Regions from separate parts of the Homo sapiens genome. Here region 2 is linked to region 1. A link means that fine-mapping ties the variant in region 1 to the expression of a gene that starts in the linked region. Tissue or cell type: whole blood. Region 1 holds a variant in brackets; the other region holds the start of a gene. All regions are shown on one strand. Distances are from middle to middle.

The links. PIP is the estimated chance that this variant, and not a neighbour inherited with it, causes the effect.
Region 2: MAFB starts here. The variant in region 1 is fine-mapped to the expression of MAFB in whole blood (TOPMed, PIP above 0.99).

What each region holds. Positions count from the first base shown.
Region 1 is chr20:40,459,039-40,467,220 of GRCh38, forward strand. LOC105372618 (a long non-coding RNA gene) reads right to left here. Exons shown (of 3, transcript XR_936718.3): 1 at 7,669-8,182; 2 at 5,282-5,403. Among named protein-coding and RNA genes, the nearest start is that of MAFB, 230 kb to the right of the region's middle. The variant A/G (reference allele first, on the strand shown) is at 3,836.
Region 2 is chr20:40,685,531-40,693,712 of GRCh38, forward strand. It overlaps MAFB (MAF bZIP transcription factor B), which reads right to left and starts at 3,706. Exons shown (of 1, transcript NM_005461.5): 1 at 318-3,706. The coding sequence starts at 3,320. The coding sequence ends at 2,349. RefSeq lists silencers at 3,569-3,638, 3,659-3,968 and enhancers at 3,919-4,896, 4,897-5,872.

The sequences.
Region 1 (8,182 bases):
CTAGGGTAATCATATGTCCCAATGGGCCTGGATGGCCCTAATTTATACCTGTTATGCCAATATAATTAATAATAGCACCCTTCTGTCCAAAAGTACATCCTGGTTTGGATGATTAAATTATATCACCCTAGCCAAGCCCAACAAGATCCAGCCTAAACCATGTCTTCCTTACACTAACAATGGGCACCCCTTTGTGGTCAGTAGATACCCCAGAATTTTTTAAAAAGCCATGTCCTGGAAGGCAGGAGGCCTGGACAGCAATTCTCATGGCAGCAGGTGAGGTAAAAATAATACTTTTCCTAAATGCAGTCTATCTGCACAAGATTTTATAAAAGTGCTATGGGGTATTTTCTGAGAAATAAACTCCTTAATATGACTTCATGGTAAGAGTTCTATTTCCTTTATTCTCAGGAGTCCTAGGGAAGAAAAATATGCCCCCTGGCAGTGTTCCATAAAACTAATGATGTGGGGGAATACGTGAATAATTGCCTGAATCGCCGGGTTACATATCTGTTAGGAAATCTCTTGGCAATATAAAGAAGGGGCTCAGGACAGTTAAATTGAAGTCAAGTGAAATAAACTCCTGCTGCATCAGCTCGATGATCTTGTGGGTCAAGGGAGCTGTGGCAGCCCTCTCTGCACTTTGGGAATGTTGGGCCTCCAAGTTTTCTGGGTTCAGAGCAACAGGGACATAGGATGAGGAGTAGAAGGAAGGAATAAACAGGCATGGACCAGACATTGCAGGGATGCAAAGGGAAGTTCTGGAGCCAAGTCTTCAAAGCTACAGATCAAAAACTCGGGCAAGGAGCAGTGGCTCATGCCTGTAATCTCAGCGCTTTGGAAGGCCAAGGTAGATGGATCACTTGAGGCCAGGAGTTCAAGACCAACCTGGCCAACATGGTGAAACCTCATCTCTCTGAAATTCAAAAATTAGCTGGGTGTGGTGGTGGGTGCCTGTAATCCTAGCTACTTGGGAGGCTGAGGCATGAAAATCCTTTGAACCCAGGAGGCAGAGGTTGCAATGAGCCAAGATCATGCCACTGCACTCCAGCCTGGGTGACAGAGCAAGACTGTCAAAAAAAAAGGGAGGGAGAGAGATAGGGAGGGAAGAAGGAAGGAAGGAAGGAAGGAAGGAAGGAAGGAAGGAAGGAAGGAAGGAAGGAAGGAAGGAAGGAAGGAAGGAAGAAAGGATGAAGGAAGGAAGGAAGGAGAGAAGGAAGGAAGGAAGGAAGGAAGGAAGGAAGGAAGGAAGGAAGGAAGGAAGGAAGGAAGGAAGGAAGGAAAGATTACTGGTGAGTGGTCAGATAGATGGATGGATGAATGAATGAATTCTAAGTGTGGGGTTATTCCTTGTGCAATATTGATATTGTACTTCATAATATTATACTTCCAAAATTATTAGAGTAAAAGGAAATGATTCAAAAAGCAAGGAAAGGTTCAGTGTGCTGAAAAATACAGTAAGCCCAATTCCTTTCTCACCCACCCCACTCTCAGCCACGGAAAGAGGACTGATACTACAGCATCAGAGACCATCCAAGACAATACAGTTGTCCCTCAGTATCCTCAGGGGATTGGTTCCAGAACACCCTGTGGAAACCAAAATCTGCAGATGCTCAAGTCTCTAATATAAAATGGTATAGTATTTGCATAGAACCTATGCACATCTTCCCATATACTTTAAATCCTCTCTAGATTACTTATACCTAATACAAGGTAAATGCTATCTAAATAGTTGTTATACTGTATTGTTTGGAGAATAATAAGAAGGAAAAATGTCTACACATGTTTAGTACAGATGCAACCATCCTTTTTTAAATTTGTTTTCAATATTTTTGATCCACAGTTGGTTGAATCCACAGATGTGAAACTTATGGATATAGAGAGTTTTATGTTTTTTGAGAGAGAGATGGGGTCTCACTATCAAAAGCCTGGGGTTGCCCAGGCTGCTCTTGAACTGCTGGGCTCAAGCAATTCTTCCACCTCGCAATCCCAAAGTGCTGGAATTACAGACGTGTGCCACTGCACCTGGTCCAACTGTGTTTTAAATTATTCTTCCAGGGTAATATAGAAATTTGGATAAAATTCTTGAATTTGAACAAAGTAGACACCAGTTTGCACAATGCAGGACATCAATCCATCCATGCCCTTTGTCTCCAGATATCTGGTGTGGATGTGCATTCATGTCAACACAACTTTTTAAATTGCATTTTTTCCTCCTTCTCACTCATGTGTCTTCAGAGTAAACTGAAGAATTATTTCAGTGGAGCCATAAACCTCTCGGTCTCCCAAGACATACATATGGACTCCATGTCAATTTTCTCTCCCACACTGCACCTGAACTATTTCAAACTATCTTCCCAGTTGACCAAACCAGAAACCTCAGAGTCGCCCACTACTCTGACCTCTCTCTAACCCCCAACCCGTTAGTCTTTCTCTCATAAATCTCTCTGGTTCTTCCAGCCCACAGCCTGTCCACTCTCATCCAGGTCTCCACCACATCTCCCCTGGGTTGTAGGAGAAGCTCTTAGCTGCCTCTTGGCCTGGGCTCTCTCCTTTAAATCCATCCTATACCTAGAAACCAGAGGGATTTTTCCAAAACAGAAATTTGACCTCCCTGGTCCCCTGGCAACCCATCAATGGCTTCATGCTGTCTTTAAATTAAATCTGAACCCCATGTGAGGCTCTGCACAATTCGGCCTCTGCTTGTTCTTCCAGCCTCATCTCACCACTCCCTGCTTCTCACCCGAGGCCTAGCAGCAGCCTCCATTTCTCTGGCTCCTTGTTTTCTGTCACTTTCAATCATTAGACCTCCTCTTCTAGTTCCTGGAACTCAATTGCTCACTCCATCTCAATCCTTTTTTTACCTAAGCACGATTCTTTCACTCCACAGGTTTTGCTGAAGTATCCTACCATATTCTGCAAGAGAGTATCTCAACATCCTCCTAGCTTAACACTTAACAACATAGTATTATGTTAGCTTGATCAACTCACTCTCCTCCCCTTGTCTGAAAGATCAAAAAAGGCAGCCCCAGGCCAATCGTGTTTGTGTTCCTAGCACCTAGGCCAATTCCTGACTTAAAGTAGGTATTAGAAAAAACTTTTTGAATGCCAGACAAATCCATGAACTGAGGACAACTCTTTGTTTATTCAACATATATTAATGGAGGGCCTGATATGTGTCAGGTATAGTTCTCAGCGTGTGGGATACATCAGTAAAAAACATAAAATGCCTACCCTGGTGGTGCTTACTTTTCAGATGGAGGGAGACATTTATTTACATATTTAACAAATATTTATCCGGCAGAGAATCATTGCACACACAAAAAAGATGGGGTGGCCTGGCCAGACATGTACATGACAGATCAGTTCTAAAATATTTTCCTTGTTTTTAGTTTCTACTTCAATGAAAAATTTGTCGTCATCTTAGTGTTACCGTCCTGGAAATTCTCAATGTCCTCTTTGCCTGCTCAATGTTTCTCTGTAACAGTGTTCATCATCTAATATAAAGAGCAACACAAACACATAGTTTGTGCTCAATCAAAGCTTGTGGAATACAGAAACAAACAAGAAACTCCAAGAGCTCATTCAGTAAACTTACAAACAAGTAAGAAGATGAGCTTATGATCAGCCTGCTCAAAGCAAAAGAAAAGGGAAGGAAACAATTTTTCTAAGAGCCCTTCAGAAAAGGGAGAAAAGCTTTGCAAAACTCAGAGAACCCAGGAGCAGTAACTGATCTTTATGATCCAGTACAGAAGCCTGAGTAACCGCAGGCTGTCTCAGGTTTTAATACAAGGTTATTTACATAGTTACCTAATTATTATGTCTCAATAGAGGG[A/G]AGGAAAAAAAGCAAGTGTTTTTCTACTCCCTATTTGCCTTAAAGATCTAAGGGTAATAAATTGTTAGTTTTATTCTTAATTGGTACATGCTTCTTCCAATTTCTTTTCTTTAAAAAAATCAATACGTGGTTTGCGAGACCTTTAATGGAGAGTAAAGAACTGTGACTAGACTTCTTCCTTATTATTGAGATAATCTGTCAGCATTTATCTTTTAAAGGGGCCTCAGGTAAGGCAGACATGATTAAGTTTTTGCAGTAGTAAATGCTGGGCCATTTCTAGAGTTAAAATGATATGAAAAATATAACTGCATCAGGCTATGCCTGATAAAAGACAGTGTCTCTTTTGCAAAAATGTGGGCTGTGGGTCTGGTCTGCTGAGGCAGGGCTCCCAACATCTTGGAAATGTTGTGCCCAACCACTGCCCACTGCCCTGGCCGAGCTCCTGCCCCCACTGAGCTTCGGGAAGTGACTGCGGCTGTTCCCAGCGAGCCTGACCAGAGGCAGAGGCCACTGGTAACCTTAACCCCACGTGGGCAGGCCCTCGTCAGAGCCTCTCCCCAACCCTAAAATTAACCAGTAAGTTTTTGGAAGGGGAGGTGGACAGAGAAGTGCAGGGCCCTGTTTGCTCTTTGGAGCCCAAAGGAAACAGGAGCCTGGGAGCTGACACCCTGGGCCTGAAAAATTGTAATTGTTAGACAAGCCCAGGCATGTGAACAAGAGCTTCCCTACCCCAATCTGCAAGGCAGACACCCTGAGAGTGTTAGAGTTGGTATGGGCAGGGTCCTTCACACTCTGAAGTATGTGGTTACCCAGCAGGCTGGTGGGCAGAGCATGGAAAAGTCCGAATCAACCATAATCAAGTAAATGGCTAAGGCCGAGTTCAGGTAAGGCCCTGCCTACAAATCCAACTCACATTACCTGTGCACCTCATTGTGCCTGTGCCAGACAATGTGCCTCAATTTAACCTTTGCAAAACTTGTCTGATATGGACATTTGTATTCTCGTTTGATAGATAAGGGAGTAAGGGCTCAGAGAATTTAATTAACCTTCCCAAGGCCACACAGCTAAATGGCAGGACTAAGATTCACTATCAGTCTGTTGTACTTCTCAAGTTATCTTTGCTCTACCAAACATCCCAAGCAAAGAAGTTAACATGATGTAATGGTGAAGAGCATGGGCTCTATAGCCATAGCGCCTAGGTTTGAATCCTGGCTCTGCTACTTACTAGCTATGTGGCTTTAGGCAAGTTACTTAACTTTTCTGTGCCACAGTTTTCTCATCTGGAAAACAGGGACAACAGTTGTATATTTATCATCGTGTGATTAGGAGAATGTAAATATGTGAATATTTGTCAAGTACTTAGAAGAGTCCCTGGCGTATAATGAATACATATACATGTTTCATGTGTGCTAAATAAATAAAAGAAAGGGATCTTTTCATTCTCACCACACAAGAGTTCATTTTCCAGTCTCTGGACTCAGAAGAAGGTGTTTTGCAGTTTCCTAACATCATGGAGTCCGAAAAGTGCTTTTGCTACAAGGGTCTCACTTTACTGTCACAACAGCTGTCTAAAGAAGAAAGGAAGATTAGACCCATGTAACAGAAGAATACACTGAGACTTGACAACATGAGGACCTTTATAAGGTCATTTAGCAGGTAAATAAAGAGCAAGAAAGATCCAACTCGACCTTTCTGACCCTGAATCCGTGCTATGCCCACACTCTAAATAAAAGCATGAACTTGTGAGTTTGTGGATGAAAGCTTGGCATTGCGTCCAAAATGAGGCCATGGGACAGACTGCTGCTGCCATTTAACCCCAGGTCCTGAGAAATTCCTCAACCCTTCCCATGAGTCAGGGACTCCTGGATTCAGTGCTGCTGTGGACTGCCCATTATGCCTCTCCCCTGTACTCAGGAGATGGAAGACTCTCTAGAGTTGACCACTGTGAACCAAAGACAATAGAGTGTTCTCTTTTTGCACAAAGAACAAAACAGAACATCAAGAGTCTTAGTGATTTATTCAAGTCACATGAGTTCAATGAGTAGGGAACTGCATCAAGAGACAGCTTCCAGTTAATTTTATGAACCTTATATGCATTGCCCAATATGAGTGTTCAACCCCATGGTTCCCTGTTTTTTTTGGGTTTTTTTTTTTTTTGTCTTTTTTTTGTTTTGTTTTTTTGTGCAATCAATGACCTAAATTCTAGGGAAGTTAGGGTAGAACTAGAGAAGACAGGGAAGAGCAAAAGAAAACAAAATGTGCTCAGTTTGGTTCCGAGGAAGGGTGCGGAAGCTGGATCCAGATGGTGGGGGTTTGGGGAACTGGATAAATCAAGAGAGTTGAGGTCCTTGGAAAAACTGAAGACGGATGTTTTCAAGGACATAGAAACATGGCTCGTAGCAATGCTCCTGGAGGCCCAGCAGAGACCAGCAATACTTGATCTCGGGGATCAACATTAGTGTCTTAATGCTGGTTATTGTCCCAAAGTAAGTAAGGTGTGCAGTGTTCAAGATCTGTCCCATTCCAATGATGAGGAAACCAAGGACCAACAAGAGGTGTGCATTTTAGAGCCCCTCCCCATCCCAGGCCAATGACCACAAAACCGATTCTGTCCCCCTTCCCCCACAGGTAGTGCCTATGCTCCTGATCCTCCCCCAATGGGACAAGGACAGGCCATTTGACCCAAGCCTGTTCCTCAAGAGATTGACAATAAAAATGCCCACATTTTAAATGTGTACATGCTACAATTTTCTGATTATAAAATCAATACAAGCTTATTTGAAAAGAACTTGGATCTGCTGGTATGTGCACATCCTTTCTTCTGCAATGAATCAAAGGATTTATTACCAATGGTTTCATCTGGGAAGATTGTAGGTGAGAAGGAAGATTTTGGATTTTGTTTTTGAGCTGTTTTAAATTGTGTGTGTGTGTGTGTGTGTGCATGTGTATGTGTCAAAAAGATATCTGGGAAATGGGATTGTAGACCACTTCGTTTTGTCTTATTATGGTGTCATCTGTGTCTCCATAGTAAGAGAGAGAAAGAGGAAAAGGAGTAGGTTAATAATCAATCTTAAATAATTTGAAAACTAAAGAAAATCAAAATCAACAGTAATCATACCATCTAGATCTAAAGGCTCATATCATTTTAGCATACCTTCATGCTGAAATAATGAGGATTATTCTATATCTAAATTCTAAATTATTCTTTTATTTATCCTTATTTTATGTTATGCCACAAATAATTTTACATATCATTAAATATGCTTCAGAAGCATCCACCTAATGGCTGTAGAGGGGCCTTCCTAGAAAATAACTTTTTATCTATAAATTTCATGTTCATTGAGCACTTCCTAGGTGTCTCCTGCCAAGCACAGCTTCCATGGCGAGGGTTAGATGACACACACCATGGCACAATGTGTAACCAGATGGTTTGATGCCAGAGACTATGTGCTTAACCACTTTACTTCTACATGGAGCATGGTTTCTTAAGCCAACCTTCCTCTGTAGCACATGTACATTGTTCCCAATTCGTCACTATTGAACAACCCTGAGATGTACATCTTTGTCCATAGATCTTTACATCTCTGAGTACTTCCCTAAGTGAACACTTCACAAAAGAGTTGTTTGACTCATAAGAATAAAAATGTTTAAGGCTCTTGATGCATTTCCCTAAGGAACCCACTTAGCATCTCCACAACAGGGTTTGAGAAGGTAAAAATTAGAACTCTTTTTTTATTTATTTGTGACTTATTTCATTACAGTTGAGCTGATTTTTCAGTTTATTAGCCATTTACATTTCTTAGTAGTCAACTTATTGTTTTATGTTAACTCACCTCACTGATACAGTAATAAATTTGGTGTTCCTTTAGTGTAGGTATGGGAAATTTCTTCAAAAATCAACAATATTCTTGTCTGGAACACTGAATTATTTTCTAGAATGCAGATGCATTGTCGACTTATATGAGTGCTCGTCCTGGAAGGAAACAGATGGTGCCCTGAACGGGGATAACCGAGGAGAGTTTATTATAGGGAGCATTTACAAGGGTGTGAGCAGGGTTAAGGAGACCCAGAAGAGTTGGTGCAGCATCCGGGGGCTGGCAACACAGAGGAGCCATTACCTCCCCTCAGTTTAAAGGGGAGGGAAGAGCCTGGAGAGAGTAGCTGTGGTTGTCAGAGAAGCACTAGGCAGGGCAGGATGCAGCCAACCCTCAGAAGGTAATACTCTGGTGTCCTCATCTCTTCCACCTCAGGGTGCAGGGTAGAATTGCTACACTATCTCCCATGGGTCTCATGGTAAAGCAATAACGTCTAAACAGGAAGCCATTAAGGCCTCTATTTTGATCAAAA
Region 2 (8,182 bases), 230 kb after region 1:
AGACTAGCAAGTCAGTTCTGGTGGCCAAGCCTGAAAGCACTGAAAAAGTGGCGTGTGCCCCACACCCAGGGACTCCAAGGCTGTTTGGACCTGCGCCCTCTCAGCTCATAATCCAGCTCTCTTGACCAGGGTCTGTACCTAGGGTGGGAAGCAGAGAACACATTTGAGGCTCATGTACACACACACTCAGACACTCAAGGAAGGGATTTGCTAGGGCTTGGTTTGCTATTCCATTGGCCATGGGGTGAGAGTAACCCAAAGTTGATGCGACTCTTGAGGAAGCAAGAGAAGAAAGTCAAAATCATGCGAACGCAGAGTCCTCTAAATAAACACCATTTCCATGGTTTTAATAAGCAAAATAGGAAACCATTTTAATAACCAAAAAACAGAAACCAGTCTGAATAAAACTACAATAGACTAGGTTTTAATATTTTCATATCATAAGCAGGGTTTGAAATTGATCCCTTATTTTACATGAAATAAAAACAATTTCTGTTGCGGCAGGTTTGATTTCAACACAGTTGAATCTGTAAAAACCAAAGCTCGTTTCTGATGCAGGACAAATATCCACAATATTTAAAACTGCAAGCACCATGCGGTTCATACAATCTTGTTATTACTGTTAATTTATCAACTAATACAAACTCAAAAATGCATCCGGCCAGCAGCGCCAGCAATTTCAAATGGGAACTTAAAAATACACTTTTATTTTGGTATTTTTGTCAGTGCAACTTAAATCCTTTTACTGACCTGCAGAAAAAAAAAAGTAATAATAAAGAAAAACACCCATATCTTCCCTATAACTACTATACAACTGAAGAATTGAAGGGGGGGGACACCACCAAGAACTCTTCCTACTATCTCAAAAGCAGGGAAAGAAACGCAATGCATTGGTCTAAAGAACGCACTTGAAAGTTGCAAAATTACTTGCCAATGTTTGGGTTTCTGGTACATTCTGAGCATAGCAGTTGGTTCAGTGCAGTGTCTGCTTACCAGTGCACTGCCAGGGTCAGGGATGGCTAAGCCTCTCACCCTAGGAGCGCTGTGGCTCCTACAATTAGCGCAGGCCCAGAGGGTTCAGAAGGGACCTCAGGGTGATTCTGGTTACAATAAAAAGCAGAGGGGAGGATCTGTTTTCCTTTCCTTTCCTTTCTTATTAAGGGTATCAATTTGACCATAAGACAAGGCTGTAGTCCAGAACACTCCTCTGGGGTGCGGAGCTTGGCAGCTTCCCTGCCCTGCCCTGCCCTTGTACTGGGACCTCTCGGTTCTCTCTCTCAGCACCAACAAGGTTGAAAACTAAAGCGAGAGAGGAAAAAGAGGACCGAATGGGGATAAGGGAAGGAAAGAAAACATGCAACTTCCAAGTGTGCCCCAAGACAAAGTTGTTTTCTGATGCAAAATGCCCGGAACTTTTTCTTTTTTTTTTTCTTTTTAACTTACAAACAAAAATACCGTAATAATAAACCCAAACAAAGACCCTCAGCTTGCTGCCACGTTCTCTATGCGGTTTGGCGGGGCGGGTATTTACAAGCCTACAGCTGGGACTGAAACCCCGCACGCAGCCGCCGGAGTTTCCAAACTGCGATCCCTTCTCACCCAAAGAAACAAGGGGAGTATGATCCATGATCAACAACATGCTAAAGTTAAACAAGAAAATGGTACAAAATAGAAATTATTACCATACATGTCCAGCATGCAGGATTAATATTTTTAATGCAGATTTTTTGTATTTTTCTATATAATCGAGCAGGCAATAAAACTGATGAGATTTGGGCGCCGAGCGTCCTAACTGAGGCCTGTGTCTCAGGGCTGAGAGCCAGTGTTCTCCGAACTCTGACAGACAGGTCCGTCTGTCCTTCCTTCTTTCGCTCAGCCTCGCCTCTCGCCTGCCGGGACGCCAGAGTCCCTCTCCTTTCCTCGTTGCTCTCTTCCTGGCGCGGACTACTCTCCGGGCAGCAAAGCAGCTGTCCCGGCTTAACGCGCAAAGTTCAGAAAGCCAGGAGTCTCCAGATGGCCTTGGTGACTTCTCGGGACTATGCCTCGCCGCCCTTCAGCCTGGAGAGAAGTTACTCCGGGACCTCCCACCCTCTCGTCTCTCTCTCCGGCTCTGCTCGAGTCTAGGAGGCGGCGCTGGCGTGCGCTACTCTCGCCTTAGCCAAGGTCCCCTGCCCGCCCGCGCACCCGCCCGTCGCCCGCGGCCCGCGCGCCCTTCCTCCCTCTCGCTCAAGTCAAACAGGTCAAGGCTGGGGCCGCGGCAGGGACAGGGTCCGGGGTAGTCTGGGACTAGGGACGTGGGACAGGGAGTCCGGGCCGGGGCAAGGGCGGGGGCCAGGACCGGCCACGACTCACAGAAAGAACTCGGGAGAGGAGGGGCTGTCGCTGGTGGAGCCCGCCTCCCTGAAGCCGGAGTTGGCGAGTTTCTCGCACTTGACCTTGTAGGCGTCTCTCTCGCGGGCCAGCCGGGACACCTCCTGCTTAAGCTGCTCCACCTGCTGAATGAGCTGCGTCTTCTCATTCTCCAGGTGGTGCTTCTGCTGGACGCGTTTATACCTGCAAGACTGGGCGTAGCCCCGGTTCTTCAGGGTCCGCCGCTTCTGCTTCAGGCGGATCACCTCGTCCTTGGTGAAGCCCCGCAGGTGGCGGTTCAGCTCGCGCACGGACATGGACACGAGCTGGTCGTCGGAGAAGCGGTCCTCCACGCTGCCGTTGCCGCCCGCCGCCGTCGCCGAGGCCGTCGCGTGCGGCCCGGGCCCGGGGTGGCTAGTGGGCAGCTGTTGCGCCGGGCTAGCGGCGCTGGACGGCGGCGGCGACGCTTGGTGATGATGGTGATGGTGCGGGTGAGCGTGCGGGCCCAGCTCGTCGTGGGCCACGCCGGCGCCCGGGTACGCGTGGTGCGGGTGAGGGTGGTGGTGATGGTGGTGGTGGTGAGCGCCGCGAAAGCTGTCGAAGCTTTGCAGCGGCTGTGGCACTGGGTGCGAGCCGATGAGCGCTTCCACCGCGTCCTCGGGCGTCAGGTTGAGCGCCTCGGGGTTCATCTGCTGGTAGTTGCTCGCCATCCAGTACAGATCCTCGAGGTGTGTCTTCTGTTCGGTCGGGCTGAAGCTGGGCGACGAGGGCACGGAGCTACACGGAGTGCTGAGCGGTGTGGAGGACACCGAGCCGGCTGGCTGCAGGCGTGTGCAGGGCCTGCCCGGACGCTCCGCGCGCCCCAGTGGCTCCTTCTTCACGTCGAACTTGAGCAGGTCGAAGTCGTTGACATACTCCATGGCCAGCGGGCTGGTGGGCAGCTCTGGCCCCATGCTCAGCTCCGCGGCCATCGCTGAAGCGAGGCGCAGCCGCCGCTGCCGCCCGGGAAACTTTGCGGCCGGCCGGAGCGCGCCGAGCCAAGCGCGGGGGGGAAGAGCGGAGAAGAGCTGGGGAGGCGGGGAGCGAGGGCGCAGCGGGCCGGGGCCGCCGGCCAAGCCTTTGTCTGGGGACGCGGCGGCGCGCCGGAGAGTCCCGAGGCTGCCTGCACCGCCCCAGAGCTCTGGGCTGTGCCCGCGCAGGGACCGGGCCGGGTAGAGTCGGGCGGGGTGGAGAGGCAAGCGGAGCGCGCGGTGGGGCTGAGGGGAGGCGTGGGGCGAGTGCCCGTTGCTCGCTCTCTAGCTCTCTTGCTCTTACGCTCTCTCGCTCGCAGCCGCTCGCAGCTCGGCGGTGCAGCTGTGCTGGATCCGGCGGCGCCGCAGCCTTTTATCGCCTCCTGATGTCACTGGGGTGCGGGGGCCCGGGCGGCCCGGTGCGCGGGCCAATAGCTGCACGGCCTCCGCGGCCCAGCGGCGCAGGGCGGGGCGCGCCTGACAGCTCCCCCGCCCCCCGCGTCAGCTGACTGGCGGCCCGAGCGGCCCCGGAGCGGCGGAGGCCTGGCGGAGCGCTGGAGCGGAGTGGGACGGCCAGCCTGGGCCCACCCCCGTACCCTGCAGGTCCCGGCCCACGCACGCTCGCCTGGAGTGCGCGCCCCACCTCTAGGCCAAATCACCGCTTTCCCCTCCTCGCGCACTCTCCTCCCTCAGTTCCCTTTGCACCCCACCCCCATCCCGTGTCACCCCCAAGGAGGCTCAGAATGAGCGCCGGGACAACGCCTCCTGGGCCCTTTGTTCCCAAGCGGCCCCCGCCCAGTGGGCGACGCTCTGTGTGTCCTCGCGGCTTCTGGCCGTGTGTGTCGTGCGTTCCTGTTTCTGGAGATCTGCGCGTATTTGTATGTTGGGGAGGGCGGGCTCGAGGCTCCGAGAGTTGTGTTCAGACCCAACTCTTAACCTCAGGGGACCTTTCTCAGGCCAAGCGAGGGCCCCTCCTGGCGGGTGCAGTCGCAGAGCCCTGAGGTTCGACTCCACTGGCCCCGCCGCTCCCCGCGTTCACCCCACCGCACAATGTTCACAGTGAAGGCGACGGGAAAAGCAGCAGCCCAAAGGCTCTGAATTCCTCTTCCCCGCCACACGCACGGAATCCTGAGCCCCCGGAGCCTCGGGGCCGAGGCCGGCCCGGGACGGTGCTCCGAGTAGCTCTCCACTGCTGGGGAGCCGGCCCTGTTTTTGTTTGAACGTTTTGTAACGATTAAGCAGATCCCGGCGTCAGCCCGCCGCGGAGAGGCTCAAACAGGCATAAAGTGCGACCCCAAGTGGCCACTGTGCGCAAAGGCGCCGCGACCGCCCGGCCCACGGCCGGAAGGCTTGGACGGCGCCTCGTACCCAGCCAGGTCTCCCCTACCTGGCCCAACCCAAGCCAGCCCAGAACGCATACTATGTGTGCACCAGAGCCCAGGACAGGTTCCCCTCGAGCGATGTACAGGTCCTCGGGTCCCGTCTTCGTACTCAGCCGCGAGCCTCGAGCCGCGAGCTCCGCTCTGGTCGCCCCGTTGAAATTCCGTGCCCCAGCGTTCGGGGGTGCCCGTCGGCTGCTCCCTGGGCCGGAAGGTCCTGGGCGGAGGAAGGCCGGTAGCCAAAAGTGGAAGCGCCACAGTGAAGCGGCCCAGGGCCACCGGGTGAGAAACCTCCCCGGAGGGCAGACGGGGAGACCGAAGCACACCGCACTAGGCATCCAGACTGGGCTTGGGAGCCGCGCACCCTCCCTACCCAGATCCAGGATGGCTAGAATTAACGGGTTCTTTCTGAGACCTCGGCTCAGGCGCCGAAACCGGATAGATCGCGAATTCGCTGGACCCGGAGACCCGACCCGCCTCCCGCGTCACCTTCTTCTTTCTAGCTTTGGGCGCGCGCAGCGAAAGGCAGGAGAGGCGCGCACTGGGTGAGTGAGTCCCGGCCGCTGTCTGCGCTGGACCAGCCCGACTGACCTCGCGCGTAGGGGTCGCGTGAGCCACACCGGTGCAGACGCGCCTAGATTATTTTTAAATGTTAGAAGGTAAAATATTTGCCTCCAATTAATCTGAAAACTCTCTATTCTCTTGCGCCCTCGGAGAGGCTGGGGTACGGCGTGGTATTGGGCCGCCTATTTTTAATAAAATGAGTGTATTTTAACTAAAACTTAACTCAATCTTGTGGGGTGGCAAATTAAATGCTGGAAGAGCGCGTCTACAACCCTCTTCGAGAAGCGTGCTCTCCGCAGAAATGAGTCGGCCGCCTGGAGAGAGAGCCTGGGCGGTGCCGCTGCGCAGCCCCTGCCAGTAGCTGGGGGTTGGGGACTCGCACCTTGTAAATGTCCTCGTCTTGTTTGAACGCAGTGAGAGCACACTCGTTTCCAGATCACTCGGGACCGGGTGTCTCGGATCTGTGCAGACTATGTATGGCTCCGGCCTCAGGCGGCCAGGGCGGGACAAGCACGCCTGACTCTCTTGGTCCCGACTGGACTAGAGCTGGTAGCACCCTCCCTCAGGGTCCTAAGAGACCTGTGGCTCCCAGAGTGTTTCTGCCACTGTGGACTTCTGCGCGGGCACCAAGATGGACAGGCCAAGCTGTGACCCACTCCACCCCCGCCCATACGTCCCCTCGGCTCTGCCTGACACTGGCCGTCGAAGACTTCCGTGGCCCATTAAGGCCCTGGGGATTCCTGAGGCCCCAGGTCTGCGGTTCCGAACCTCCTCTTCTCCTGCGGGCGGCCTGCCTCCGACTCAGGGTCTCTTGGACTCGGGCTTTGGGCAACCGCGCTCTTCTTTGTCCCTGTGCCTCTGTCTCTGTTGTGGTCACTCCCTTCGCCTGGGCTTTGACTGTGGTATCTCTGTCCATCCCCAGGCTCACTTCCCCACCCAAATCCGTTTCTCTGCCCCTCTCCCAGCTTAGCCACTCCCTCCTCTGCACACCCCACAACCTACCCCACCAAAAAAAAATGTTGGAAACAGCCCTACCCCTGCCAGGCTGTGGGTGAATGACGGAGACATGCAGGTGGCCGAGGAGTTAAGGCCGCTGCTGCGCAGCCGGCCCCACTTCGTGGCCTGGCCTCCCCCACCCCGGTTACTGCTGCGCTGACTTGGAGCCCCAGGCCCTATAGCCTCCAACTTCCGACTGCTGTCGCGGGATGCCGCTTCTCATCTCTGGGGTCTCTGGATCAGCATGCCAGGCTCGGCTCCCCGTCATGGATACACAGCAGTGCCCGCAGTCTTCACCCTATCCCTAAAACGTAGGCAGGGTTGAGGTGAGGAGGGTGAGGGATTGCTGCTGTATACCTATTGACTGGGAGTCCGACACGCTCAAAGAAAAAAAGTAAAAGAAGGAACGGTGGAAGAAGTGAAGGGTCGAGGAGAAGTAAAGGGAGGCCAGGAGACACGCGAGCAGTGCACGGAGTCCCAAGGCACACTGAAGGAAATGCACGGAGTCCCAAGGCACACTGAAGGAAAGTCGGGGATTTTGCGGCAGCCACAGCCCCTCTAGTGAACAGCTTGTTGCCAAAACTCCCATTTAAGGTGTTTACCCAAGAGTGACCTCCTCTCTACCCACGCCAGGTTGGGCCAGAGGCTATGCCTCTGGGACGCACCGCCTCGGGATTCTTTAGCTACAAATGGTGATGGAGGAAGCTCTGCAGGGTCCGAGCCGCTGCAGAGCCTTGGAGCATTCGGGGTAGGAGTAAGAGAAGAGGTTATTCCCTAAGGGAGCGTGGAGCCCACAGCCAGCCGCCAGGTGTGAGGTTTGCCGCGCTGCCCTCGTTGGCCCCCACTCAGCCGAGGGAATAACTCCAGAGAGGCCCGGCGGCGTGTCCTCCCGTACGCCTGGAAACCAGAGCGGCATTCCTGGCATCCTCATTCAGCCCGAAGGTGCGCCGTTCACCTTCGGCGTTATTTCCCTGAGGGTTGCAGGTGGTTGGTGAGCGAGGAGGCGTCTCTGTGCACGCATGGGTGCTGTTGGAGGCGTGCGGGAGGGGTGTGTTCGTGCGTGTGCTGTTTGCGCGCGCGTGTGTGTTGGTGGAGAGGCGCAGCAGCACGCGGGATGCGGGAGCGGGAAACTTCCAGCTTCAAAGCTCGGTGGGCTCCGGATCGTACTATGCGGAGTCGCTAAGCAGAGGCCAGTGGTCTCAAGGGCCTCAGAGGCAAGTTCTGCCAGGGAGGGTCCTGAATCAGGGGACCCCCACCTCCCGCCTGCCGCAGGAGCTTGACTTCTGCCTTTGCATCACCCAGATGTAGTGTCACCTGTCTTTTCCAAGGAGCCCTCAGGTCTCTGCCACCTTTTGTGAGGCTCAGTGGAAAAGTATTATGTTGCTCCCATTCCGTGGGATCCTCCCAAGGTCTATGGAACCCAAAAAGAGACAGGAGGGTTTTCTGGGGGATTTTTGTTTCTGTTTTTTGCCCTTACTCTTCCTTTTCCTCTTCCCAAAGGCAGCTATCACTTCCACTTTCCCTTGCCCCATACAACCGCTGTCAGATTCCAACCCAGTGCTTCTAAAAAGGTATTCTTGGGTTTCTGGGTCCTGGTGGTCTTTAGGCAACCAAAAGATTCAGAGGGTCCCAGTAGGGAGCCAGAGTTACACTGACTGTGAAGATCCTGGCTGTCTCTCCTGGGGACCAGGGACAACACCCCAATACATGCAGAAATGTGCACGCGAGCACACACACACACTTAGGGGTAGGAAATTATTATTAAAACTATTTCACTGTTTTTTTTTACTGTGTTCTAATGTGACCAATAAATAATTTTAAATTACACATGTGCCTCACATTCTATTTCTGATGGACAAGCCTGCATTAGATAACCACTGGGCA